Linked DNA regions of Homo sapiens. The protein of the gene in region 4 interacts with the protein of the main gene of each other region in a pairwise test. Each region holds a gene or a part of one and is shown on either strand. Other genes may lie near its edges.

Region 1 (6,883 bases), on a different chromosome or scaffold from region 4:
AACTGGGGTCACTGTGGTTTAGATTTGCATTTCCCTGATGATTAGTTGAGCATTTTTTTCATATATTTCTTGGCCATTTGTATGTCTTTGAGAAATGTCTATTCAGATCCTTTGCCCACTTTTAAATGGGATTACTTGGGGTTTTTGATGTTGTGGATCATAAACATTTAATAAAATTATTCATATATTTGGGTTTAAAGCTTAATTTTATTTTGTGCTTTTATTTGTCCCATTTATATTTCTTTCTTGATTTAAAAAAAATTGAAAATTTTGTGTTGATTATTCAACTTTTTCCCCTCCCTACTATTGATAGCTTGGAAATTTACATCCTGTTACTATTATTTTAATAGTCACATACTATTAATTACTAGATATATAATTACCTTATCAGAATATAAATTTAATAAATACCTAAATAACTTCCAATACGATACCAGGCCCTTAGAAAAGTTGAAATCCATTTAAGCCCCTCCTGACGTTTTTTCTGATTGTATGATACATTAAGTTTATTTTTTAAAAAGAAGAATAGATGTTTTTCTGATTTCTTCTTCTGCCAATGTTCTCTTACATTGCCCACGTACTACCACTTCCTTTGCTCTTCATTCCTTCCTGTATTTATTTCTTTTAAGGTCATGTTCCTCCTGAAGTACATACTTCAGAATTTCCATTAGCTTGGTTTGCTGGTTACAAACTCTCTGTTTTGTTTGTCTAAAAATAACTATTTTATCCTCTTTTTGAAAACTTTTTTGAGTGATGCTGCCCTTAGAATGCCAGGTTAATATGTGCAGCATCTCCCATAAGCACCCCCATCCAGTCTTTGATATCCCTGAGCCGAAGCCCGAGTTTGAAGTGACCATATGCTCTCAGAAACCTTGGTGAAATAACAATGCCTATCTGAATAGGTTTGATGAGACACTTACATGAGATAAGGATGGAAAATTCCTGGCACAGAGGTTGAAGGCAACTAAAGGGAGTTATTCTTTCAACTGAAGGCATTGGCTCTGAATCTTAAGGATTTTAAGGGTTTTTTGTGTGTGTGTTTTTGTTTTGTTTTGTTTTGCAATTGGAAAATGAAATGTGGCCTCCTTAGAACCACCAGAGCTAGAATTCTTGTAATTGGAAGCCCCCTTACCCCCAACCCCTCTCCTATAATATGAGGCCAGAGATAAGGTATGCTCTGTATCCAACTGGAGCCAGTTTAGCAAATGCTCCTCCAAGCCCTATATGAAGAGACCTCCGCTTGGTTCTGATGATGCAACCCAGGCAACTTTACACAATCAAAATTTTTTGCACAGCTCTGAGACACAGTCTTTGTCCTTTCTGATGCCACCAGGTCCAACTGCAGAACACCTGATTTGGCGATGAAGCCAATTTAAATGTAGAACACGATTCTGCTTAGAGGCCAGGGTCAGATGTCATAGTATTGGGGAGCAGAAGCAAGAGTCTGAAGAAAACCCCTAAGCTATTGCCAGCATCACCCCCGACTGTGTGAAGTAAGCAACCTGCCTTCTCTGCACCTCCAAAATCCTCCACCCACCACCACCACCATTCCAGTGTTCCATCCACAAGAGAAAGGTCATGCCCCTGAGATGAAGGTGCTTTGTCTTTAAATGTAGATTGTTTACTCCAAGGAATTCTAGGTATTGGAGTTGGAAATAAGAAGGCAGAAAGAAGCAGGTAAAGTACCTTGGCAGGCTGAAGCTGAAATTAACAGCAGCTGAAAAGCATCAGACTGTTCACTCACTTCCAAACATCAGGAGTCAAGAACAAGCAACTCCTTTGCACTTGGGCAGTCCAAGTGCACTTGGTCTTGACCCCCCAAAGTTCCCACAGGAGTCTCTTAACCACACTTTACATGAGAGAAGGAAGGCTTGCTTTCCCAGAACCAGAAGTAAGGGAAAATGGAGTGCTGCAGGCTGAATTATGTTCCCCCAAATTCATTGTAATCCTAACCCTCAGTACCTTAGAGTGTGACTGTATTTAAAGATAGGGCCTTTAAAGAGGTTATTAAGGTAAAAATGAGGCCCTTAGGGTGGGCCCCAATCTGACTTGTGTCCTTATAAGAAGAGGAAATTTGGACACACTGAGAGAACCCAGAGGCACATATGCACAGAGAGGATGGCCAAGCAAGAGGGCAGCCATGTGCAAGCCAAGGAGAGAAGCCTCAGGAGAAACCAACCTTGCTGGCACCTTGAAGTTGGACTTCCCAACCTTCAGAACTATGAGCAATACATTTCTGTTGTTTATAAACCACCCAGTCTATGGTATTTTGCCATAGCACCCCAAACAGACTAAAACAGCACTGTAACAAATTATCACAAACTTGGCTTAAAACAAGAGAAGTTTAATTTCTCACAGTTCTAGAAGCCAGAAGCTTAACATCTGTTTCTCTGGGCTGAATTCAAGGTGTCAGTAGGACTGTGCTTTATTCCTTGCCTCTTCCAGTTTCTGGTGGCTGCTAGCATTCCTCTGCTTATGGCCACATCACTAATCTCTGGTCATTGCCTTCTCTTCTTGGTGCACCAACTCTCCCTCTTTTATAAGGGCACTTGTGGTTTAGATTTCAGCCTGCCTGGAAAATTAAGTCAAAAAGCCTTAACTTAATCACACCTGCAAAGACCATTTTACTTTATAAGGTAACATTTACAGGTTTCAGGGATTAGGACTTGATACATTTGGGTGGCCATTATTTAGCTTCATACAGAGTCCGAAATCTTTGCATACAATTTCAGGAAGATCATGGATTCCAGGTAGGCACATCTGCTCTGGAGTTGCATTTCACCACAGATACCTGTGGACAGATATTGGAGACAGGCTCATTTACTTATTCACAAACCTTGCTACAACTCAGAACCAACCGCAGCGCCGGTTAAAAATACTAAATACAAAACCACATCACAACCGCTAGTCCTAGTAAATCTGAATCCACCAGAGTTGGGGCCCAGAGCCTACATTTCTTTTCTTTTCCTTTTTTTTTTTTTTTTTTTTTTTTTTTTTTTTTTTTTGAGAGGGAGTCTTGTTCCCTTGCCAGGCTGAAGTGCAGCGGTGCGATCTTGGTTCACTGCAACCTCCGCCTCCCAGGTTGGAGAGATTCTCTAGCCTCAGCCTCCCAAGTAGCTGGGATTACAGGCACGCGCCATCATGCCCAGCTGATTTTTTTTTTTTTTTTTGTCTTTTTAGTAGAGACGGGGTTTCAACATGTTGGCCAGGATGGTCTCGATCTCTTGACCTCGTGAGCCGCCCGCCTCGGCCTCCCAAAGTGCTGGGATTTCAGGCGTGAGCCACCATTCCCGGCCAGAAGACTGCATTTCTAACAAGCTCCCCCAAATGACTCTGATGTCTTGCCCCCATACTTGAATGGGTATTGGTTGAGAGCCTTGTTCTCCAGCTCTCCTCTCTGTTAAATGGACATACTGCTACTTCTTTCACAGTAAAAGAGGAGATGTGTGTGAAAGCCTGTTTCCGCAATGCACGTGCTAATGCTCTTCCCGCCCCTTCCCCTCTTCCCCGTCTTTTCCCTATACCAAGGTGAAGAACTTTTATTATTCACTTGATTTTGGACCCACTTCGTGTTTAATGCACCTGGCCTAAGATGCAGAGTTGAGCCCAGGGAGAAGGGACGGGTTGGGGGAGGAAGAAAGAGTCGCAAATTCCCAGGCAGATTGGCTCCATCGGTCTAATCAAGCTGCACTTGACGCTCCGCGGGCCTGCTGCGCCCCCGCCCCCTCAGGCGAAAACTCGCCTCTGCCCAAGGCTGTGCGGGGCGTCCGCCCCCGCACTTCGCTGATTGGCCGCACTAGCCCGCTCGTCACGCTCTTTTGTCTCAGCTGGCAGAGGATAAAAGCCGCCGCGGCTGCCTTAGGAACGGCGCTGCCTCGTCTCTGCTACCCCTGGTTGGGCGGCCCTGCGAAGCAGCTCCTTCGGGCAGCCCCGGGTCGCTTAGCGGCCAAGGAGGCTTCAGTTCTTTGCCGCCTGCAAGGCGGAGACCAGAAGGCGGAATCCACAGCTGGCGACGCGGGAGCATCTGCTGTCCACCAGCGGAGCACAGGTAAAGAATGGGGGTGTGATTGCCCGGCGGGGAGAGGGGTGGGGGAAGACCCACCAGTACTGGGCGGCTCCCAGCTTGGAGAATCGGTGACTGTGAGGCAGGGGTAGGAGTACTCTCGTGGCCCGGCTGCGCTGAGGGAGGAGGTGGGGTTCACCTGGATACTGCGGGCTAGGTAGGATTTGCCTGGATTTGGGGGTGGGAGGAGAGGCGAGGAGTAGCGGGGGGAGGAATCTCGAGCTGTTTGCTTCGAACATCCTTTGCATCTCCTCATCTCTTTCTGGGAGGAATATGTGGGTGGGTGTGTCCAACTCCTATTCCCTTTCTCCGTGGCAGGCCATCAAAGCCGCATCTGAACTTGAATTCTGTGCAGCTGATTGCAGAGCTGGTAGGCCGACGGCTTCCCGGGGGAAATGTAATGCTGGAGGGTGGGGGGCTGGTCTCTGGCTTATAGTCAGGAGGGGGCAGAGAGAATTTTTCGCCTGGCAACAGCGGAGGTGGTGGGTAGCAGGATGACGGGTGAAGCTGCTTCTAACCCTTCCCTTCTCTGGCCTTCTCCGCTGTGGCGCAATCTTGAAACCTCAAGGACCCGGATCTGCGACCCCCTGTGGACAGAGGTTGACCGTACCCCGGAGAGGAGCTTTCTCACGGAGGGCACTGGTTGCAGAGGCTGGAAGTGAAATAAAGACGCGCTCTTGTTTCAGAGTTCGTGTAAGAATCTGAGAAATAACAAGGGGGACGGGCGTGGGGGGCACTTTGAGAAGGGGGTGTGGTTGAGACCAGAGACCATGAGGTTAATGAGATCTTATTTTATTTCCACAAATCTGCGATCATTGTACTCTATTTGGAGAGCCCAATATCAGCTCCAGACACTGCTACACCTAGAATTTGAAGCAACAGTTACCGTCCCTCTTGGAGGACTGGTGGGAGGGATGGATGTGGCTGCAAAAAGCACCTTGCTAGCACGCAGGCATCGGGTAGCTCTGGGAGGTTGTAAGTGTCAATCTCCTACAGGATTATTTTTAGGGTAGTGGGCAAATATAAAATGTACTGCAGGATATTCAGGTAGGAAGAGAATGCAGCTGCAGCCCGCTCCCTTATTAACCAGCCCCCCTTTCTTTTTTACAGCCCCTGCTGAGATAGGAAGGCAGAGCCACCTCCTCTCCTCTCCCACCTGCAGATTAAGCTTTTCTAAAAAGCCTAGGCATCTTCTTATATTCAGATACCCTATCGTCGTCAGTCATGGCTAGCATCATTGCACGTGTCGGTAACAGCCGGCGGCTGAATGCACCCTTGCCGCCTTGGGCCCATTCCATGCTGAGGTCCCTGGGGAGAAGTCTCGGTCCTATAATGGCCAGCATGGCAGACAGAAACATGAAGTTGTTCTCGGGGAGGGTGGTGCCAGCCCAAGGGGAAGAAACCTTTGAAAACTGGCTGACCCAAGTCAATGGCGTCCTGCCAGATTGGAATATGTCTGAGGAGGAAAAGCTCAAGCGCTTGATGAAAACCCTTAGGGGCCCTGCCCGCGAGGTCATGCGTGTGCTTCAGGCGACCAACCCTAACCTAAGTGTGGCAGATTTCTTGCGAGCCATGAAATTGGTGTTTGGGGAGTCTGAAAGCAGTGTGACTGCCCATGGTAAATTTTTTAACACCCTACAAGCTCAAGGGGAGAAAGCCTCCCTTTATGTGATCCGTTTAGAGGTGCAGCTCCAGAACGCTATTCAGGCAGGCATTATAGCTGAGAAAGATGCAAACCGGACTCGCTTGCAGCAGCTCCTTTTAGGCGGTGAGCTGAGTAGGGACCTCCGACTCAGACTTAAGGATTTTCTCAGGATGTATGCAAATGAGCAGGAGCGGCTTCCCAACTTTCTGGAGTTAATCAGAATGGTAAGGGAGGAAGAGGATTGGGATGATGCTTTTATTAAACGGAAGCGTCCAAAAAGGTCTGAGTCAATGGTGGAGAGGGCAGTCAGCCCTGTGGCATTTCAGGGCTCCCCACCGATAGTGATCGGCAGTGCTGACTGCAATGTGATAGAGATAGATGATACCCTCGACGACTCCGATGAGGATGTGATCCTGGTGGAGTCTCAGGACCCTCCACTTCCATCCTGGGGTGCCCCTCCCCTCAGAGACAGGGCCAGACCTCAGGATGAAGTGCTGGTCATTGATTCCCCCCACAATTCCAGGGCTCAGTTTCCTTCCACCAGTGGTGGTTCTGGCTATAAGAATAACGGTCCTGGGGAGATGCGTAGAGCCAGGAAGCGAAAACACACAATCCGCTGTTCGTATTGTGGTGAGGAAGGCCACTCAAAAGAAACCTGTGACAACGAGAGTGACAAGGCCCAGGTTTTTGAGAATTTGATCATCACTCTCCAGGAGCTGACCCATACTGAGATGGAGAGGTCAAGAGTGGCCCCTGGCGAATACAATGACTTCTCTGAGCCACTGTAAGGGACCACCCCCAGGTTTCAGTGAACCCTTACCTATATTCAGCATCCAGTAGTGGGAAAACTGGGGTGGGGGTGGGGGTGGGACTTCTAACTGCATGAATTAATCCACAAAGCGGCTATCTTTTGGGGTGGAGTAGAAAGGGTCTTGGATACCAGCACATTGGAGGGAGATAGCCTGACCTCTGTCCTTGCTCCTTCTCCCTGCAGCCTACGGGTCTGTTTTCTGTGTGTGCCCATTTCCTTGACAGCTTTATTCTTTGTGAAAGTGGTATAATTTATTGTTAAATATTTGAACAATAAAAAAGGTACAAAAAGTGAAGTACAAATTACCCAAATCTCTCCACCCTTATATAATCATTGTCAACCCTTTGATGAGTGATATTTCCCT
Region 2 (7,811 bases), on a different chromosome or scaffold from region 4:
TCAATTTTTCAAGAAACAAAGTTAGTTTTCACCGTGATACATACAATACATTCAAGTTCCATTAATATTAACGGTTCTTACTAGCAGTAACTAGCAGTTAAAAAGCTTTCTAAAACTTCATCAATTTATATAATGTACTAACATGTATACCTGGAAAAGGTGCTAAACACTTAAAATAAAAACTGAGATTTCGCTCAATAGAAATCATCTCCATTTTGACACTCAGGGCTTCATATTCCTGTTAGCGTTAGTGAAATCTGAGAACACATCGCCAAGCTTCAAAATGAATATAACCCTAGAGAGGATTAATAGTTTCAACTTGCATGCTGGTTGGTCAAAAAGAAATATCCCCCTGTAGCTATACAGGTACTCGGTGTGAAGTGTAACTTTCACAAAAGCCTGTCCTATGATTTCATGAATTAACAGAAACTCACTACTTTAGGTTACATAAAAACCCACTGTAATCTAAACTGCCGGAAAAAATTATGGTTATTTGGAAGTTCAAGCTAAATGATTCCAACCCCTCCAAATTTTCAAACATCAGGAAAAGTGCAGAATGTTTTTAAGTTGAAGTAACCTCAGAAACTCACAATCTAGATGTTTTGTCTCCCAAATTCCCAATACTGATAACAGATATCAAGAGATAATTCAACACTATGTCCTCAGTATCCAGTTCACGGCCTGGCTCACAGTAATGGCTCAATAAATATTCGAGAAACGAATGAATGAATGAATGAATGAATGATGATATAGCCTTAAACAAGAAACAATAAAATGGTCTTTTTAAACTCATAACACTAACATTAAACATCTTAATGAAACTACAAACAAAAGTAAAAGCATGCTAAAAGCAAGCATCAACTTCTCTATGAAATACATTTTAAACCGTTCATTTAAAAATTTTCAAGTGCAAAAGAATCACCAGATATACTAAATTTCTAGTCATTTAATAAATAAACTTCTATATTCTAACAATGAAAGCTCAGCGTTGGGATAAGATGAAAGGGGGAAACGTCTGTCAATGTATTCCGCATGTTTAATGGATCCCATAAATCAAAGCTTTCCGTGAATTTTCTAGAGCATATTCATGCCAATCTTTAAGCCTATTGTCACTTTCACACATGCTCACAGGAACAAAATGACAAAGAATGCTATGCCTGAACCACTGGATTCAGGGCACAAAACACTTGATTAACACTTGTCAAGGCTCTGACTAGCAAATATCGACAGATATTTTCAAAATAAAGTACTCGCACCGATTCCTACATAAATCGAAGCTCTTGATTTCTTTAAAACATTCACTAGACGGTTGAACTTCCAGACATTTGAAAATGTGCCTATCTCCTCGTGTGCGACAACTAGGAGTGAACAGCCCGTCTACCAATTGCGGATGAATACCGCTAAGCTTTTTCCAGACTAAAGAGCGTTAAAAGACATTCCATGCACATTTATTCATTCCCCATAAATGTGTTTTCTCCCAAATTTCATTTTATGTTGTATACTTAGATACAGCAAGTTGAAATTTTAGTCAAAAGCACGCCGGTGCCTTACAAGCTGTGTAACTGCTACATCTGGTGGCAGCCCACTTGCTTGCAAGAAGCCAGAAAACTTAGAAAACAATTGTAACCGATTTGGTGCGTGTTTGCAATAACCTTTACGCAGATATTTCCCACAAAACCCACGACCCTGTCACAGAAGAACAGTAGCCTACTTGCAGCAGAGAATATAACGCACAAACACGCAGGAAGCAACGGCGAAGGAGAGAAAGTTGCAACCATCTGGAGGGGCGGTTTTAAAAGCCTGCCCACGAGTCAGTCTGTCGTTTAAATTGCTCTAGGGGGCCACACAGGGGATCAAAGTCTGCCCAGATAATTTCAGCGTCTCTCCCCAAAGGAGAAACCCAGCAAGCGAGGGGCATCCTCCAGGTCCCGGGCAGCAAAGCTCGCAAAGTGGGGACCGCCTCTATGGGAGGAGTGCGCGGGAGAAGGGGAGGGGGCTCGAGGACGAAGGCTCCAGCGGGAGGGAAAACCCACCAGAGACCGGAGGCCAGGAGGTTAAGAGTACTGAGTGTACTGGCAAATGGAGCAGAAAGGGGCTCGCGTCTGGGGGGAGGCTTCCCACCCTCGCAGGACTGGCTCCCAGGAACCCCAGGCGAGTCTATGCGCCTCGCCCCGTCCCCACCAGCGCGCACCCCCTCGTCCGTCTCCTCCGCCACCCGCGAACCACCATCCACAGCCAGGGCACTACCTCCCCAGAGCCGGGGAGCCGGGCGGCCTCGCGTCCACCTCGCCACCATCCCCCACCCCAGGGTCTGGCGGAGAAGCCCCGGGGCGGGGGGGGCGGGGGGGGGGCGCGGGGGTCCGCGGCGCGGGAGAGGAGGCCCGCGAGCGGGCGCGGGCGCGGCGGTGCTTACCTTCCCTGGGCCTCCCGGATGGCGGCGTGTGATTCAGCAGGGACCTGGCCGCCGCCGCCGAGCCCGGGGTTGGAGACGTGGAGAGCTGGGACCAAGATGGCGGCCCCTCCAAACTTCCACTGCTACTTTGGACACTCATCAAGCTACTTTCTGGGAACCCGACTCCCCCCCTGCGACGGCAGCGGCGGCAACGGCACCGGCACCCGCCTCCGTCATGGCGGGGGCCGCGCTGAGGGCGAGCGAGAGAGCGAGGGCTGGGAGGGGAGAGTCAAGGGGATGGGGGAGGAAACCGAGAAGAGGGGAGGTGGGGAGGAAAGAGGTGAGGGAAGGAGAGGGGACAGGGAGGAGGGAAAGGGGGAGAAGCGAGGGAGCGAGCGGGCGCGCCAGAGGAGAGGAGGAGGAAAGGAGCGCGGCGGCGGAGGCGTCGAGGGGGTGCCAGCCGGGCCGGGGTCGGAGCGCGGGCGGAGCGCGGGCTGCGCCGGCCGAGGACACTTCCGCGGGCGGAACCTGCCGGCACCTCTGCAGTGCGTCGGCCCCCGGCGTCGCCCGGGAGGCGGCGGCGGCGGGCTGTGGGTGGCGGCTGAGGCGGTGGGGTAACCTCTGCATCAGTTACAGGCGGCGGCGGCGTCACGCGCCGCCTGTGCAAACACTATCGCGAGGCTCCTGCGCCTCCGGTAGCGGCGGCGGCGGCGGCGGCGGCAGCGGCGGCCGCGGGAGCAGGCTTGGGGGAGGGACCTGCCAGGGGCTGGGGGGTGGGGGCATGGGGAAGGAGCGAGCGCGCGAGGGAAGAGACTAGAGCGCCGGGGCGCCCCTGCCGCACCCGCGGATCGCCGCGCGGCGCGGGAGCCCGGGGTTGCCGGACTCGCGTGCGCGGGGGCAGCGTCCCCGCGCCGGCCGGAGGGAGGCGCGCCCCCGCCGCGCCGCTCGGGCTCCAGCGCCGCTGCCACCTGACTCCCCCTGTCTCCCGCGGAAGCGCGCCTCTCTCCTGACCCACACCCAACACGGGGAGAAATGCTGCTGCTCTCGCTCAGCTGCCGCTTCTCGGGAGTTCAATGTGATCGTTTCTCAAAATGGAACTGAAAAGTTGAGAGTTCCTTCTTTCTTGCCCCTCTGTACTGTGCAGAAAAACGTATGTGCGCCTCCCCGTCTGCAGAATGGGAATAATGACCGAATAAAAGAGCTATGAAAATAAACATGGGTAGTGGGAGAGTTGGGAAATAAAACTTTCTCGTGTTTTCTAAAAAAGAGTGAAGAATCTTTAATGAGGAAATTGAAAATTACCAGTTTTGTAGACTGTATGGTATAGCAATTCTTTGTTTTAAAACAGTAAGTGGAAAATCTAAATGAAAAATGTGATTACTGAATCACATATTTAGGAAAACTATACAGCGTTCATCTTGCAGAAGGTATGGTTTCTAGAAACTTATAATTTGTTTCTAGTGTCTCCGCTGAGTCCCGACTACAAAAATCCCAAAATAAATAACAGCATTTGCTAAAATTTATAGATAGAGTGTAGCTTTCTACAGACCCACACAAGTATACTCACACCAGGGATTGGGCTTCTTGTACATAAAAGAGCACTCTAGTTCAGGAAAAGTACAACAAGGTTATTTCTCTCTTTAGAAAACCAAATTGAATAGAGCACTAAAAAGATTATGATATAGCGCTACTGCACAGACAAGAGGAAATGGCATGATTACCAGGGGGACAAAAATGTCGTTTCTATTTTTTATTTTTATGACTTCGCATTTCTCATAGTAATGTTTTGTTCAGATAAACTATCATACTAGAAAAGAACCTTGATTGTCAGTTATCTCCAGAAGTAATTGTAGTTGCCTTGTGCTTTAGATACTTCAGTGAGTTTTTAGTCTTGTCTGCTTTTCAAACTTAAGAGGGACATCTCACAAACAACTTTATTGAGGTATAATTGACAAAATAAACTGCACATATTTAAAGTGTACAATTATTGGCCAGGTGCGGTGGCTCACGCCTGTAACCCCAGCACTTTGGGAGGCCGAGGTGGGCGGATCACGAGGTCAGGAGTTTGAGACCAGCCTGGCCAACATGGTGAAACCCCATCTCTACTTAAAATACAAAAATTAGCCGGGTGTAGCGGCACGCGCCTGAAGTCCCAGCTACTCGGGAGGCTGAGGCAGGAGAATCGCTTGAACCCGGGAGGCAGAAGTTGCGGTAAGCCTAGATCGCAACGTTGCACTCCAGCCTGGGCGACAGAGCGAGACTCCTAGACTCTGTCTCAAAAAAATAAAAATAAAGTGTACAATTTGATAAGTTTTGATGTGTATACCTCCCTGAAACCACTTCTACAAGGAAGATGGTGAATGTATCTATCACCCTCCAAAGTTTCCTCTTTGTGGTTCCTCCTCCACACTACTTCCATTCTCTCCAACCACAGATCTTTCTGTCATATGGGTAGCTTTCCATTTCATAGAATTTTAGATAAATGCAGGCCATACAGTCAATTTGTACTCTTGTCTGGCTTTGGTTTTGTTTTTTGTTTTTTGTTTTTGAGACAGAGTCTTACTCTGTTTTGCCCAGGCTGGAGTGCCATCTCGGCTCACTGCAGCCTCCGCCTCCCGGGTTCAAATGATTCTCCTGCCTCAACCTCCTGAGTAGCTGGAATTACAGGCACGTGCCACTACATCCAGCTAACTTTGTATTTTTAGTAGAGATGGGGTTTCACCATGTTGGCCAGGCTGGTCTCAATCTCCTGACCTCAGGTGATCCGCCCACCTTGGCCTCCCAAAGTGCTGGGATTACAGGCCTGAGCCACCGTGCCAGGCCTTGTCTGGCTTCTTTCACTCGACATTATTTTTTTGAGAGATTCGTCCACATTGTTGCATTATCAATAGTTTGTTTTTATTTTTAAGTAGTATTACACTGAATGAGTGTACCACACTTGTTTATCCATTAAACTATTGATGGACATTTGCATTGTTTTCACTTTTTGGCTGTTACGAATAATGCTGCTAAGAACATTCATGTACAAGTCTTTCTGTGGACATAGGCTTTCCTTTCCCTTGGATACATACCCAGGATCTTGCCATTCGATTTTTATACCTAAATACATGCACTATAAGAGGAACAGAGTTTCTGTAATGACATGTTGATAAATGTATGCTCTTTCTGTATTTTTAAGAGTAAGCTTAGTCAGCAGATTGCGGTGAAAAGAACATGGGACAGGAAGGAAGTTAAGAGACCTGAGTATTAGTCTCAGCAGGTAACTTGATTCAATTTCCTCATCTACGAGAAAGAGGTTAGAGTCACTGAGTGATTTTTAAAGCTCCTACCAATTCTGAGACTGTACAGAGCTCAGTTCCTCTCAAAAATGGTAAACAAAGCCCAACCAAAAAGGTTTGATGATGGTAGGTTATCTTTCTCCCAACCTTCTCCAGAGCTTCAAGTTTTTAAGTTATCCTTATGCCAATTCATAGTACTTTTTTTTTTTTTAATTGTCACCCAGGCTGGAGTGCAGTGGTGCAATCTTGGCTCACTGCAACCTCTGCTTCCCAGATTCAAGGAAGTCTCATGCCTCAGCCTCCTGAGTAGCTGGGACTGCAGATGCCTATCACAATGCCCGGCTAATTTTTTGTATTTTAGTAGAGATGGGGTTTCACCATGTTGCCCAGGGTGGTCTCAAACTCCTGAGCTCAGGCAGTACACCTGCCTTGGCCTCTTAAAGTGCTAGGGTTACAGGCATGAGCCACCACGTCCACCCTAACTCATGTTATATTTAATGCAGATTGGCTATGTTTATTTTTAATGATAACTAGAGGATTACAGCATATACATGATCAACTTACTTTAGTTATATTTTTGTTGTGGATACTTCCTTAGAAGGACAATTAAATGTTTGATTCCTGTCTTCATGTGGTTTTTGATAAGACAGCACTCACCAACCTTTAAAAAAAAGGCTTTTACTGGCAATGGGGAGTTATTTAAACAAACTGCAGCTTAGCCTGAAAATGGAATGTCATGCCATTATTTAAAATCATGTCTTCAAAGAATACCAGAGAAGATAACATTTTCACACTATAGTAAGTGAAAAAATGGATATGATCTGGATTTATTCCTAAGTATGCATCAAAAACACTGGAAGTACTCAGGAGGCCAAGGTGGGAGGATCACTTGAACACAAGAGTTCAAGACTAGCCTGGGCGACATGATGAGACCCCATCTCTTAAAAAGAAAAAAAACTGGAAGGATGTGCCCCAAAAAGTTAATAATAACTAGCCTTGGGCTGTGAGATCACATAGTTATTATTTCTTTATGTATGCTTTTCCAAATTTTGTAAAACAAATCATGTATTTCTTTTTATATTCAGAAAAAGTTCAATAAATACGTTTTAAGTAATTGAAGTAATTGAAGCATAAAGAAGGCCTCTGGACATAAGTTGTGCAAATACATAATTTTATAAAATGATTATGTCAAATAAATGAAAACTTTTAAATGGCAAGGAGAAGCTCCTCCACACCTTGAAATTTGCTAGTATATGGGCATTCAAAAAATGTCCGATAAAAAAATAGATCAAGACTGGGCACGGTGCCTCACGCCTGTAATCCCAGCACTTTGGGAGGTTAAGGCAGGAGGATCACTTGAGCCTAGGAGTTCTAGACTAGCCTGGGCAACAGAGTGAGACCCCACCTCTATCTAAAAAAAAGAAAAAGATTAGATGGCTAGAGTGATAGATTACACAATAGGAAAAAATATAGAAAAGTCAGAAGAGTTCAGATTCAGACAGAAAGAGACACGTGCCACTCTGTAGGGAAGAAGAAATCTCAAGAGCAAGAAGAGATCATTGGAAGCTTTCTGGCAATCTTCCATGGAGGAATATTCCCAGAGGGAAAGCCAGCTTGAGAACACAGAAATGAACTGAGCAAGTAAAAGGTAGTAAACCTGCCTAGAAAGAATCAGGAAGAGACTAGAGAGAACGTTCTGAGTGCTCCATGAGGACAGGGCCTTAAGCCTCTAGTACAGACCAAGGGCTCTGTCAATGTTGTGGAATTAATGAATGATGACGATCAATGAGCTGGGTTTCAGGTGATAGGGCAATGCAGGAGAAGTCTTCAAGGGTCTCCTGATGGAAGGTCAGATGCAAAAGGTGAAGGTCTGAGCCCCGATCTATAGGATGATCATAATTTATAACTATGTTTAATAGACTATTTTCTATTTCTATACCATAGTAAAAATATTTACAAAGCATCCAATATTATAGACATACTAAAATGCATTTTATACTCTTAACTTCTAAATTCAAGGGAAAAAATTAATGTCTGAGCCACCTAAGCCCCTTTCCCCCAAACCAACAAGAAATTAGCCCAGAGGCTGGGGGCTGTGGCTCACGCCTGTAATCCCAGCATTTTGGGAGGCCGAGGCGGGT
Region 3 (7,218 bases), on a different chromosome or scaffold from region 4:
AGTTTCTAGCTGGTCTCTATCTTAAAAGGGTCCCTCAGCCCTGACATTCTAGTTTCCTGTGATCTGCCCAGGGTCCTTCCCAGCAGGACTGTACAAAAGGGCTGCGAGTCCCAGGACAGGGTCCCTAGTTACTCCCAGGAAACCAGTCAGAACTGGAAGACTTGACTTAAGAATCAGTTGCATTTTGATTCAGTCAAATAGAGCTACAAGCCTGGGGGTGGGTTAGTCAAGCCCAGAACTGGGGGAAAAAATTGCAGCATCAAACTATATGTAAACACAATATAATCGCAAAATATAAATGCAAATGCAAAACCAAACAGGAAACCTCAGGGAAGTCTAATCCAAAGTTCAGACTCTAACTTTTTGGGCCCTGAGATGCTGAAGAGAAAAGCTGTGTTTGGGTGCCGCAAGCCTTTCTGTTGTAACAATGAACCTCTACGTGCACCAAACCAAAAATCTGAAGGCAAAGGAGGATGGGTTTTGTCTTGCCTGAACTGGGGCAAAGCTGAGCCCTGAACAGAGCCTGCTGTGGCCTCCAGACCCATTCTAAGGGTCCCTCCCCCAACACACAGTGCTTACACTTACACAGCCAGGCAAGGCCAGATGTATGGGCATAAATGGGCATTTCTGTCCATGGATAAGGTTCATATTGGAGCCCCTTCTCCTGCTCTAAGATTCTAATGAACAACCTGGGGAGGAGGATGAACCATGAAATCCCTAAGAATGTGGATGGCACTGAGCTATTCTGGGTCATGAAATGTGAGGCTATGAAGACAAATCTCAGGAAGCTCTCCAAAGGATGGGCTGGACAGCAGTGTTTCCCTGTGAGCCCCACAGTAAAATATAACCCACATCCACAGGCAGTGGACTCTGCCCAAGGAAGGAAGCCAAATCTGACCGGCTGCTTCTTATTTTAATAAAACATGTACCCCTACTATGTGCAAAGTAGTAGGCTAGGCTCCGTGAGACAAATGAGACAAGGTGAGGCTCTGTGAGACAAATGAAGACAAAAGAGACCCAATCACTGTCTAAAGAGATCTGCCGATTAATCTGACGATAATCATTCCATTTATCAAGAGGCATGGGCCAGTGCAGCGGCTCACACCTATAATCCTAGTACTTTGAGAGGCCAAGGCGGATAGACTGCCTGAGCTCAGGAGTTCAAGAACAGCCTGACCAACATGGTGAAACCCTGTCTCTACTAAAAATACAAATATTAGCCGGGTGTGGTGGAGCATGCCTGTAATTCCAGCTGCTTGGGAGGCTGAGGAATGAGAATTGCTTGAACCCGGGAGGCAGAGATTGCAGTCAGCTGAGATCGCACCACTGTACTCCAGCCTGGGAGACAGAGCAAGACTCTGTCTCCAAAAAAAAGATGCATGCTTTATATGCATTGTCTCATGTGAGGTACACATTATTACCCCCATTCCACAGATGACAGGACAGGTCACATGCCCACGTTCACCCAAATGGCAAACTGCAGAGCCAGCGTTTGAAAAAAGGTCTGCCTTGGCCGGCGCGGTGGCTCACGCCTGTAATCCCAGCACTTTGGGAGGCCGAGACGGGCGGATCATGAGGTCAGGAGATCGAGACCATCCTGGCTAACACGGTGAAACCCCGTCTCTACTAAAAATACAAAAAAAAAATTAGCCAGGCGTAGTGGCGGGAGCCTGTAGTCCCAGCTACTCGGGAGGCTGAGGCAGGAGAATGGTGTGAACCTGGGAGGCGGAGTTTGCATTGAGCCAAGATCGCGTCACTGCACTCCAGCCTGGGCGACACAGCGAGACTCCGTCTCAAAAAAAAAAAAGGAAAGAAAAAAGGTCTGCCTTCCCCAAAGTCGATGCTCCTTCCACAATCCTCTATCACCCTTACAAAGTGATACAAACAGACTCCGAGATGGAGGGTCACCCTGACAAGAGAGAAGAGGACAGATTTCCTGACACTGGCGCAGGGTGTTATGAACTACTGAGCTTTGTATCTGCCACGCAGTGGGTGCCTAGTACACTTAAGGTGAAGGGTGGAAGGCTAGAGCCGTTGCTGAGGTCCAAAATGCCACCCAAATTGAGGGCATCCTTTGGATGGGGAGCTGCAAAAACACATTATTCTCCGTTGGACCAAGGCCACGGGGTGTCTGTCCTAGAATATTCTTTGCAGAGGAGCTGCGGAAAGCTGCAGCAGGTTCAGAGAAGAGGAATGGAAGGAACTCCGAAGAGCATGGGAATGGGGTGGGGCAGCCTGCAAGACCGAAAGAAAAGGCCTGGGACGCTTTGCTGGGAAAGACAAAGAGGAGAGGGGAGGGGAGAGGAGACGATAAACTTGCCAACAGCCCGGCCAAGGTGAACCCCGGCTCCTGGCGCCTTCCCATCCGCATTCATTCCACAAACGCGGGCCAAATCTCCGAACCAGCCGCAAGCGGGAGGGGGCCTCTCTGCAGCCGGGGGGAAGAAAGTTCAGGACTGAGGCGGGAAGCCTGCCTCTCAGAAGGGGAGTGACTCGGGGGGCACACTTGTGGGGCTCCGAAGATGAAAACGCAAACTGAGGCTGGAAGGCGCTAGGCAAACACATATGTGATGAGGCGGTCACGCGGGGCACTTGGGGTACGTCCCCCGACCTGTGGAGTTTGTCATCGAAGAGACCTCGAGGCCCCCCAAAACGGTCCCTCGGGCCTTCCCCCGCCTCGACGGTGAGGACGCAGCTGTTGGAGATGCGCTCGGTCCTCCCAGACCTAGGGAGGGGGCAGGTTTCGGGGCGCGGTGAAGGGCCATCGCAGCTCGGGTGCGACACGCCTGTGGAGGTCAAGGCCAGGCCCGGCGCCGACCCCCGACCCCTCCCGCCTCGGCCCCCTCACCTCCTCCCGCGCCAGCGCCGCCCCTCGGTACCGGGGCATCTTGGCGGCGAAGGCGGCGGCCCCAGCCGGGGAGCTGAGGTCCTCCGCGGTGACGGCCAGGAACTCGGCGACGCTGAACTGCTCCGGCATGGCGGGCGCGAGCGTGGAGCTGCCGGAGCGGGGCGCGGGGGGCACTGAGCTGCTCCGCGCTGAGCCGGCCTCACCGCCGGCCGGGGGCGCCGTCCCGGCCTCCACACGCCCCGCCCCTCCGCACGCCCCGCCCCCGACCCTCCAGCCGCTCTCCGCTCCTCAGCTGGGACGGCCCCGCCCCCGGCTCCTCGCCTTCCTCCACCGCCAAGGTCCAGGCTCCGGCCCCGGTCCCGGCCCCGCACCGCGTCAGGCCGCTTCCCCGGCCCCTCGCCGGCCCCCTAGGCCACGCCCCCAGCCCCTCACCGCCTCAGACCCCGCCCCCTGGCGCGATGCCCCACCCCTGGCCTCAGTAGAAACTCCTCCGCCTTCCCCCATCCCTGCCCCTTCAGGGCTCTGTCCCGTTTCATCCCGCTCTGGGTCTTCCAAATCCTCCTCCCTTGCACGGCCCAGGCTGTTCCATCTCCGCGTCGAGTCTTAGAGCCCCCTCCCTCTTCCTCCCTCCTCTGCTGATTCGTTCCGAGTTCCCCATGACCTCGCCCCTTCTGCCCTACCACCCCCCCGCCACCCTTCCCTCCTCTCTCCCCAGTCCCGCCCAATCTCCTTGCCTCGCTCCGCCCCGAATCGCCCCACCCCTCCTTTGCTGCGTACGCCCAGCTCTCAGCCTCAGCTTTGCAGGCATCCGGAGACTCCCTCCTGATAACCCCCGCCGCCCCGGGGATGTGTGGATCGGGGCCCCTGGCTAGCTGTGTGACTTGGGGAAAATTACTTCTCTTCTGGAACCTCAGTTTCCTTATCTGTACAATGGGAAGCCTGATGCCCGCTTGATTGTGATGTTGCGAAGAACCGAACACGTGCGTGTACTAGTTCCCTCTTACCCGACCATAGATCGCACCCACGCCTTTACTCTTCCTGCTCCTGCCTTTCACCCCTTAATCTGGCTCACCATCCTTTGGGGCGGATGAGGGATGGGGTTCAGGATAGAAATCCACTTAGGTTTAGTTCTGAAGCCTGAGGTCCTCTGGGGAAAAGTTCTCCAAGTAAAAAGCTAGGAAAGCACCGCAGCAAGGAACATTGGTTTTGGAGTCAGAGGAACCTAGATTCCAATCTTGGTTACTTTGGATAAATTGCTTGCTTCTCTAAGCCTGCATTTCCCCCTCTTAAAATGGCCTCATGGTATTTTACCCCACAGGGCGGCGATTGAGAGAATCTTTTCTTTTCTCGCACAGAAAAGAAAAGAAAAGAAAAAATCCGGAAAGATATGCACTAAAATGTTGCACCAGCAACATTTTATGCACTAGCTGAAGACAGATATGCACTAGCTGAAGACATTATGAGTAACTTTCTTTTCTTTTGGTGAATCTGTATATCCTAACTTTTATACAATGACCATATACTACTGTGTAATAGAATTAAAAGTTGACGGGAGCGATGGCTCATGCCTGTAATCTTAGCACTTTGGGAAGCCGAGGTGAGCGGATTGTTCAGGAGTTCAAGGCCAACCTGAGCAACATGGCGAAACCTTGTCTCTACAAAATATACAAAAATTAGCCCGGCGTGGTGGCTCTTGCCTGTAGTCCCAGCTACTTGGTGGGCTGAGGCAGGAAAATGGCTTAAACCTGGGAGGTCAAGTTTGCAGTGAGCTGAGATCCTGCCATTGCACTCCAGCCTGGGTGACAAAGTGAGACCCTGTCTCAAAAAAAAAAAAAAAGAAAAAGAAAAAGAAAAGAAAGAAAAAAGAATTAAAAGTTGAAAAAAATGTGTACCATCTGATAGAGACGACAACTATTCCAAGAGTTCTTTCAAGGTCAACTTCTCCTGTTGAAACCAAATAGGCACTTTTCTTGTTATTTATTTTTAGAGACAAGGTCTCACTCTGTCGCCCAGGCTGAAGTGCAGTGCAATGATCATAGCTCAAGGCAGCCTCAAACTCCTGAGCTTAGGCACTTTTCTTGCTTGACTTTTAGGAGCATCTGACAATGTTAACCACTCCCTTCTCCTTGAAACACCCTTGCCCCTGAATCCTAGGAGAACTATTTTCTTTGGTGGCCCTCTCCCTCTGGCTGTTCCAAGAGCCCTTTCTGAGATGCACTTCCTCCGCAGGGATCTTAAATGCTGGAGTTGTTGGGAGCTCTCTGCTAAATCCTCTGCATGTCTCACTCTATCAGCCTTCCTGGATTTCTTCATCCAATCCCAACGGTAATGTTGATGTCTTCTGTACTAGTTTCCTGTTGCTACTATAACAAATCACCAATAACTTCCCTCAGCCTCCCGAGTAGCTGGGATTACAGGCACGTGCCACCACACCCAGCTAATTTTTGTATTTTTTAGTAGAGACGGGGTTTCGCCGTGTTGGCCAGGCTGGTCTTGAACTTCTGACCTCAGGTGATCCGCCCACCTCGGCCTCCCAGAGTGCTGGGATTACAGGCATGAGCCACTGCGCCTGGCCACATTTATTCTTTTACATGTCTGGAGGTCACAAGTCTGCAATAACTTTCACTGGGCTAAAATCAAGGTATCAGTGGGGCTGTACTTCCTCTGGATGCTATAAGGGAGCATCTGTTTTCTTGCTTTTGCAGCTTCGAGAGCTGTAGTTTTTGCATTCTTTGGCTTATGGCACCTTCCACCTTCAAGGGCAGCAGCATCTTCAAGCATCTTACTTGCCTTCTTCCCTGTGATCAAATTTCTCCCAGCCTCCCCACCCCTCTTCTTTTTGTTTTTTTTTTGTTTTTTTTGAGACGGAGTTTCACTCTTGTTGCCCAGGCTGAAGTGCAATGGTGCGATCTCAGCTCACCACAACCTCCGCCTCCCGGGTTCCAGCGATTCTCCTGCCTCAGCCTCCAGAGTAGCTGGGATTACAGGCATGCGCCACTATGCCCGGCTAATTTTGTATGTTTAGTAGAGATGGGGTTTCTCAATGTTGGTCCTCGAACTCCTGACCTTAGGAGATCCACCCGCGTCGGCCTCCGAAAGTTCTGGGATTACAGGCATGAGCCACGGCGCCCGGCCCCCTCTTTTTTTTTTTTTTTTTTTTTTTTTTTGAGGCAGGGTCTCATTCTGTCACTCCAAGCAGTGGAGTGATCACAGCTCCCTGAAGTCTCAACCTCCTGGGCTTTTGCGATCCTCCCACCTCAGCCTCCCAAGTAGCTGGGACTGCAGGTGCATGACACCACGCCCAGCTAGTTCAACCTCTCTCTTTTTTTTTTTTTTTTTTTTGAGACGTGATGCCTCTCTGTCGCCCAGGCTGGAGTGCAGTGGTGTGATCTCAGCTCACTGCAACCTCTGCTTCACAGGTTCAAGGGATTTTTGTGCCTCAGCCTCCTGAGTAGCTAGAATTACAGGCCCATGCCACCACACCCAGCTAATTTTTTATTTTTATTTTTTATTTACTTATATTTTTATTTTTTGTATTTTTAGTACAGACAGGGTTTCATCATGTTGGCCAGACTGGTCTCCAACTCCTGACCTCAAGTGGTCCACCCACCTGGACCTCTCAAAGTGCTCAGCCTCCCTCTTATAAGGACATTTGTGATTACATTTAGGGCCTATCCAGATAATCCAGGATAATCTCCCCATCTCAAAATCCTTAATTTAATCACACCTGCAAAATCTCTTTTGCTATATAAGTGCCATTTACAGGTTCCATGGATTAGGACCTGGATATCTTTGGGAGCCATTACTGAGCCAATCACATCTTCCAAGGCTGTATTTCCAGCCTGGACTCTTCTCTAGTTCAAGATCTATGTATCCAGCCACCTATGAGACAGTTTCATTTCACTGGCTCACAGACAGACACCTTAAACTCTACAGGTCCAAAACTGAACTCACCATCTCGTACGCCCACTCCTTGCACCAGATTGTTTTCTGTCCCTGTCTTGATGGAAGGCATTACCATGCACCCCCTCGGAGTCATCCTCTCCTCCCTTCTTCTACCAACCTCCCCTCAAACAAGTCTTGTCACTAGTCTCACCAGTGAGACCACCTTCTCCATCTGCAGGCCAACCCCAGTCCAGACCACTGCCACCTCTCACTTCCTCGCTGGTCTCCCTGCCCCTAATCTTGCATATCTGTTCTGTTGCTCCTCTACTTAGAACTCTTCAGTGCCCCCCGCATTGCTCTCTGAATAAAAGCCAAACTTGTTTTCATGGATGTCTAGCCCTGCATGGTCTTGCTGCTCCTGCCATTCACAGGCTGATCTCTTGCCTCTCTGTCCCCACTGTGATTGAGCCCCTTCACTGTTCTCC
Region 4 (7,023 bases):
TGAAAGTAAGTGCCCTGACCCTGAACTTACACATGAGCGTCTGACATAATATTTGACAATTTTTTATGCTGTTACTTGTGTAAAGATATTCACAGCAAAAAGTTTGATTTTGTTTAGGTTACCAGAGGTTAGGCTGGAAATAATTAAATATAACTGTACTCATTATAAAAATAGTTAACATCACCAGCAAACATTTGTTAATCTACTAGGTGCAATACCATATGCTCTTGATACTATGCCATCTTACATTTAATTAAGAGTTCTTTACAAATCATACTCTGTGTTTTTCACAGACATTAGAATGGCTTGCATATTTACACATTTAGTTTTTTCAACATCAAAATCAAATGCACAAGTTTCAAACATCACTTTGAGTTCTTGAGAGTATAGTGTGCCAACATTTTAAGTACTTTCTTCTTTTCTTTTCTTTTTGAGACGGGTCCTGTTCTGTCACTCAGGCTGGGGTGCAGTGGCACCATCTCGGCTCAGTAGAACTTCCATCTCCCGGGCTCAAGTGATCCTCTCACTTCAGCCTTCCGAGTAGCTGAGACTATAGGCATATAACACTACGCCTGGCTTTTTTGTTTTTTTCATCCTTTTTTTCATGTGTTAGGTACTTGTCACTATTCTCTTGACTTTTTTTTTTTCTTTTTGAGATGGAGTCTCGCTCTGTTGCCCAGGCTGGAATTCAGTGGTGTGATCTTAGCTCACTGCAACCTCTGTCTCCCGGGTTCAAGCGATTCTCCTGCCTCAGCCTCCCGAGTAGCTGGCACTACAGGCGCACGCCATCATGCCCGGCTAATTTTTGTAATTTTAGTAGAGATGGGGTTTCACCATATTGGCCAGGCTGGTCTTGAACTCCTGACCTCAGGTGATCCACCCGTCTCAGCCTCCCAAAGTGCTGGGGGATTACAGGCGTGAGCCACTGCACCCAGCTCTCTTGACTTATACACATTTAATCTATTCTATTAATTTGTGTTAATTAGATATTGGTCTTCAAATTTTAGTATTCATAAGAGTCACCTGGACAGCTTATTAAAAATACACTTGGGGACCAGGTGTGGTGGCTCACGCCTGTAATCCAAACACTTTGGGAGACTGAGGTGGGTGGATCCCCTGAGGTCAGGAGTTTGAGACCAGCCTGGCCAACGTGGTGAAACCCTGTCTCTACCAACAATACAAAAATTAGTTGGGCGTGGTGGTGCATGCCTGTAATCCCAGCTACTTGGGAGGCTGAGGCAGGAGACTTGCATGAACCCGGGAGGCGGAAGTTGCAATGAGCTGAGACTGTGCCACTGCACTACAGCCTGGGCAACAGAGCCAGACTGCATCTCAAAAAAAAAATGAAATAAAAATAAAAATACAGTTGGGGATAGGCATGGTGGCTCGTGCCTGTAATCCCAGCACTTTGGGAGGCCAAGGTGGGAGGACTGCTTGAGCTCAAGAGTTTTCATCAGCCTGGGCAACATAGGGAGACCCTCTCTCTACTAAAAATAAAAAAATTAGCTGAGTATGGTGGTGCCTGCCCCTAGTCCCAGCTACTCCAGAGGCTGAGATGGGAGGATCGTTTGAGCCCAGGAGGTCAAGGCTGCAGTGAGCTGTGATTGTGCCTCTGCACTCCAGCTTGGGTGACAGGGTGAGACCCTGTCTCAAAAAAACAAAAACCAAACCAAAACAAAACACCAGTTTACAGGGTCCCATCTCCAGTGATTGGGGCACAGACTAGAAATCTGATTATTTATTCATTAGAGTTGAGGTCTTGCTTTGTCGCCAAGGCTGGAGTGTAGTGGCTCAATCACAGCTCACTGCTGCCTCGAATTCCTGAGCTCAAGCAGTCCTCCCAAGTAGCTGTCCCCTAGGCTGGAGTGCACCTGGGGGTACAGTCATGAGATACCATGTCTGGCTGATTTTTAAATGTTTTGCAGAGACAGGGTCTCCCTATGTTGACCAGGCTGTTCTGGAACTCCTGGGCTCAAACAGTTCTTCCCCCTTGGCCTCCCAAAGTGCCGGGATTATAGGTGTGAGCCACTGTGCCCAGCCCTGATTTTTATTTTTTTTTAATTTTAATTTTGTCTTATTATTTATGTTTTTGGAGGCGACATCTCACTCTTGTCACCCAAGCTAGAGTGCAGTGGCGTGATTGTAGCTCATTGCAGCCTCAAACTCCTGGGCTCAAGTGATCTTCCTGCTGCAGCCTCCTGACTGGCTAGGACTACAGGGTCACACCACCACACCTGGCCAGTTTTTCTACTTTTTGTAGAGACTAGATCTTGCTGTGTTGCTCAGGCTGATCTCTAACTCCCGACCTTAAGAGATCCTCCCACCTTGGCCTCCCAAATTGCTGTAATTACACATGTCAGCCGCGGTTCCCAGGCCTATTTCTCCTTTTAATAAGACCTTGGATCTTAGTGTGCCACCCTCCAGCAATAATCTTTGCCAACTGGTTCTAAGAGTCAATCAGGCCAGGCATGGTGGTGCACACCTGTAATCCCAGCACTTTGGGAGGCTGAGGCAGGCAGATCACCTTGAGGTCAGGAGTTCAAGACCAGCCTGGCCAACATGGTAAAACCCTGTCTCTACTGAAAATACAAAAATTAGCTGGGCATGATGGTGCACACCTGTAATCTCAGCTACTCGGGAGGCTGAGGCAAGAGAATGACTTAAACCTGGGAGGCGGAGGTTGCAGTGAGCCAAGATCGAGCCACTGCACTCCAGCCTAGGGGACAAAAGCGAGACTGTCTCAAAAAAAAAAAATGTCAATCAGTCTGACGTTCTACATCTTTATTAGGGAAAATACTCTCTTTGACAAGCAATTTGTTTTATAAAATATCTTCTCTGACACATTTGTTTTACCCTAGTTTATTTTCTGTTGCATCTTATGATGGTTTCATCTTCAAATCTATTAATTTGTATTTTATAAAGAGTCATCTTAATTAGATTTATTTAATCCTTATTAGTGGTCCTTTTATTATTCTTTTTTTCTTATATTTTTATTGTGGCACAAACTTTATACTAAAAGGAAAAGGAGATTCATTGTGAATACATGATAAGTGAAGGAGCCAGTCACAAAAGACCACATACATATGATTCCATTTCTATGACATTTCTAGAATGGGCAGATCTGTAGAGAAAATAAATTAGTGGTTGACTAGAACTATGGAGGAGGAGGGAATGGAGAGGGACTACTAGTGGGAATGGAGTTTCTTTTCAGGGTGTTAAAAATGTTCTAAAATTGTTTGTGATGATGGTTATGATATCAAACTAGGTTCGTCCTGCCCACGTGCAGCAAGCCAATCACTATGATGATGGGTTTTGCAAAAGAGACAAGATTTTATTCATAGGGCTGCTGAATGAGGAGACAGGAGAGCAAATCCCAAATCTGGCACCCTGAAAATAGGGCTTGGCAGTATTTGTGGGGTAGGACGCAGGGTGGTCTAAAGCATGGGGAAAGGTGATTGGCAGGTAGGAAAGGTGAGGTAATCAAGGTTTCTGCACAAGCGTAATTGAGCTACATTGCTCTTCATAGGCCATGTGCAGAAAATGGCAGTGTTAACATGATCTAAGTGTGGAGTTTTTGTCCCTCTGACATGAAAAGGTCACTTTTTGGGCACTCATGCAGGTCCAGTTGAGGGATTGGTGGTCTCAACTGGGTAAGAGCTGTCCCCTAATTCCTGAAAAACAACTTTAAGCATCTGTTAATATAGTGACCCACAGTCAGAGATGTCATCTTTTTTTTCTTTCCTTTTTTTTTCTTTTGAGGCAGGGTCATGCTATGTTGCCCAGGCTGTTCACAGATGTTAACTTTTATTTATTTATTATTTATTATTATTATTATTTTTTGAGATGGAGTTTTCGATCTTGTTGCCCAGGCTGGAGTGCAATGGCATGGTCTCAGCTCACTGCAACTGCCTCCCAGCTTCAAGCGATTCTCCTGCCTCAGCCTCCCAAGTAGCTGGGATTACAGGCACATACCACCACACCCAGCTAATTTTTGTATTTTTAGTAGAGACGGGGTTTCACCATGTTAGCCAGGCTGGTCTCAAACTCCTGACCTCAGGTGATCCACCTGCCTTGGCCTCCCAAAGTGCTGGGATTACAGATGTGAGCCACCATGCCTGGCCAACTTCTTTGTTTGTTTGTTTGAGATGGGGTCTCACTCTGTTGCCCAGGCTGGAGTGCAGTGGCATGTTCATGGCTCACTGCAGCTTCGAACTCCCGGGGATCAAGCAGTCCTGCCTCAGCCTCCTGAGTAGCTGGGACTACAGGCATGTGCCACCATGCCCTACTCAGAGTTTTTCATAAATGCCGTTTTAGTGTTAAATAAGTTTCCTTCTATTCCTAGTTTGCTGAATATGTGTGTATGTGTGTGTTTATTGTGGTAAAATACACATAACATAAAATTCTATCATTTTAACCCTTTAAAAATGTCCAGATCAGTGTAATTAAGTACATTTACGTTGTTGTACAACTGTCACCATGATCTGTCTTCAGAACTTTTTCATCCCAAAGTGAAATGCTGTACCTATTAAACACTAACTTCCCATCTCCCCCCACTCCAGCCTCTGGCAACCACCATTCTACTTTCTGTGTCTATGAATTTGACTACTCTAAAAACCTCATATACGTGGGATCATATATTTGTCCTTTTGTGACTGACTTATTCACTTAGCATAATGTCTTTGAACTTTTGCTGAGTGTTTTTTTTTTTAATCTTAAAAGGGTATTGAATTTTTTCAAATATCTTTTCTGTGTCTGTTGAGATGATAATGTGGTGTATCACATTGATTGATTTCCTTATGTTGAACCACTCTTGCATTCCTGGGATAAATGTTGGTCATGGTATATAATCTTTTTAATGTACTGTTGGATCCAGTTTGCAGTTTGCTGTTATTTTCTTGAGGATTTTTATTTCTATATTCATATGGGATATTGGTTTATAGTTTTCTTATCATGTCTTTTTTTTAAGAGACCAAGTCTCCCTATGTTGCCCAGGCTGGTCTTGAACTCCTGGACTCAAGGGATCTTCCTGCCTCAGCCTCCCAAAGTGCTAGGATTACAGGTGTGAGCCACCATGCCCAGCCTGAATTTTATCGTATCTTTTTCTGGCTTTGGTGTCAGGGTGATGTTGGCCTCATAGAACGTTAGGAAGTGTTCCATTCTTTTCTGTTTTTTGAAGGAGTTCGAGTAGGATTGGTGTTAATTCTTTGAATATTTGGTAGAATTTGCCAATGCAGCCATGTGATACTGGACTTTTCTTTGTTGGGAGGTTTTTGTTTATCAATTCAATCTCTTATTATAGGTTTGTTGAGACTTTTAATTTTTTCTGAGTCAGTTTTGGTACTTTAATGTTTCTAAAAATTTGTCTCTTTTATCTAAATTATCTAATATGCTGGTTTAGTCATTCACAGTATTCTCTTATAATCCTTTCATTTATATAAAATTAGTAGTAATATCCCCAGCTTCATTTCTGATTTTATTTATTTTCATTTCATCTTCTTTCTTTTTCTCCCAGTCAGTCTGACAAGAGTTTGTTAATTACTTTTTTTTTTTTTTTTTCGAGATGGAGTCTTGCTGTGTCACCCAGGCTGGAGTGCAGTGGCATGATCTCAGCTCACTGCAACCTCCACCTCCCAGGTTCAAGCAATTCTCCTGCCTCAGCCTCTCCAGTAGCTGGGATTACAGGTGCCTGCCACCGTGCCCAGCTAATTTTTGTATTTTTAGTAGAGACAGGGTTTTACCATGTTGACCAGGCTGGTCTTGAACTCCTGACCTTGTGATCTGCCCGCCTCGGCCTCCCAAAGTGCTGGGATTACAGGCGTGAGCCACCATACCCGGCCAAGAGTTTGTAAATTCTGTTGATCTTTTTAAATAACAAATTTTTGGTTTCGTTGATTCTACTATTTTTATTCTTCTTGGTTTTTGTGGTTGTTGTTGTTTGTTTGTTTTTGAGAAATGGGGCCGTGCTCTGTTACCCAGGCTGGAATGATGCAGTGGTGTGATCATATGCACTGCAACCTCAAACTGCTGGGCTCAAGTGATCCTCCTACCTCAGCCTCCTGAGTAACTGAGACTACAGGCATGCATCACCAAACCCAGCTAATTTTTTTTTTAATTTCATAGAGATGGGGTCTCACTGTCTTGCCCAGGCCTTGAACTCCTGGCCTCAAGCGATCCTCCTGCCTCAGCCTCCCAAAGCGCTGGGATTACAGGTGTGAGGTACTGCACCTGCCTTATTTTTATTCTTTATTTCACTTATCTCTGCTCTAAACATTGTTATTCCCTCCCTTTGGTTGGGTCCAGTTTGTGCTTCTTTTTCTAGTTCCTTAAGGTCTGAAGTTAGAGTATTGACTTAAGGTCTTTCTTTTTTTTATCTCTGTTTTTATTTTTATTTTTTGTAGAGATGGGGGTTTCACTATGGTGCCCAGGCTTGTCTTGAGCTCATGGGCTCAAGCGATTCTCCCACCTCAGCTTCCCAAAGTGTTGGGATTAAAGGCATGAGCCACCATACCCTGCCTTCTTTCTAATATTTTATTATTGTTATTATTATTTATTTATTTATTTTTTGAGACAGAGTCTCGCTCTGTTGCCTGGGCTGGAGTACAGTGGCGTGATCTTGGCTCACTGCAACCTCTGCCTCCCAAGTTCAAGCGATTCTCCTGCCTCAGCCTCCCAAGTAGCTGGGATTACAGACATACACCACCACACCCAGCTAATTTTTGTATTTTTAGTAGAGACAGGGTTTTGCCACATTGGTCAGGCTGGTCTTGAACTCCCAACTTCAGGTGATCTGTCCGCCTTGGCCTCCCAAAGTGCTGGGATTATAGGCGTGAGCCACCGCGCCCGGCCTTATTACTATTATTTTTTAAGACAGGGTCTTGCTCTGTTGCCCAGGCTGGGGTGCAGTGGCACCATCACAGCTTTCACTTTCCAGATTCAGGCAATCCTCCCACCTCAGTCTCCCAAGTAGCTGGGACCATAGGCTCGTGCCACCATGCCTAGCTAATTTTTGTATTTTTTGAAGAG

Evidence for each region.
Region 1: the proteins of TFCP2 (region 4) and ZCCHC12 interact in binary tests that used the Homo sapiens proteins (3 or more experiments, as listed by UniProt).
Region 2: the proteins of TFCP2 (region 4) and TLK1 interact in binary tests that used the Homo sapiens proteins (3 or more experiments, as listed by UniProt).
Region 3: the proteins of TFCP2 (region 4) and ASAP3 interact in binary tests that used the Homo sapiens proteins (3 or more experiments, as listed by UniProt).

The regions. Positions count from the first base shown.
Region 1 is NC_000023.11:118,819,958-118,826,840, forward strand, and holds the start of ZCCHC12 (zinc finger CCHC domain-containing protein 12), read left to right. Parts: upstream 1-3,866; 5' UTR 3,867-4,048; intron 4,049-4,381; 5' UTR 4,382-4,433; intron 4,434-4,631; 5' UTR 4,632-4,756; intron 4,757-5,173; 5' UTR 5,174-5,287; coding exon 5,288-6,496; 3' UTR 6,497-6,883. UniProt on the Homo sapiens protein: Transcriptional coactivator in the bone morphogenetic protein (BMP)-signaling pathway. It positively modulates BMP signaling by interacting with SMAD1 and associating with CBP in the transcription complex.
Region 2 is NC_000002.12:171,157,877-171,165,687, forward strand, and holds the start of TLK1 (serine/threonine-protein kinase tousled-like 1), read right to left. Parts: upstream 3,018-7,811; 5' UTR 2,553-3,017; coding exon 2,414-2,552; intron 1-2,413. UniProt on the Homo sapiens protein: Rapidly and transiently inhibited by phosphorylation following the generation of DNA double-stranded breaks during S-phase. This is cell cycle checkpoint and ATM-pathway dependent and appears to regulate processes involved in chromatin assembly.
Region 3 is NC_000001.11:23,481,157-23,488,374, forward strand, and holds the start of ASAP3 (arf-GAP with SH3 domain, ANK repeat and PH domain-containing protein 3), read right to left. Parts: upstream 3,024-7,218; 5' UTR 2,978-3,023; coding exon 2,849-2,977; intron 1-2,848. UniProt on the Homo sapiens protein: Promotes cell proliferation.
Region 4 is NC_000012.12:51,163,131-51,170,153, reverse strand, and holds part of TFCP2 (alpha-globin transcription factor CP2), read left to right. Parts: intron 1-7,023.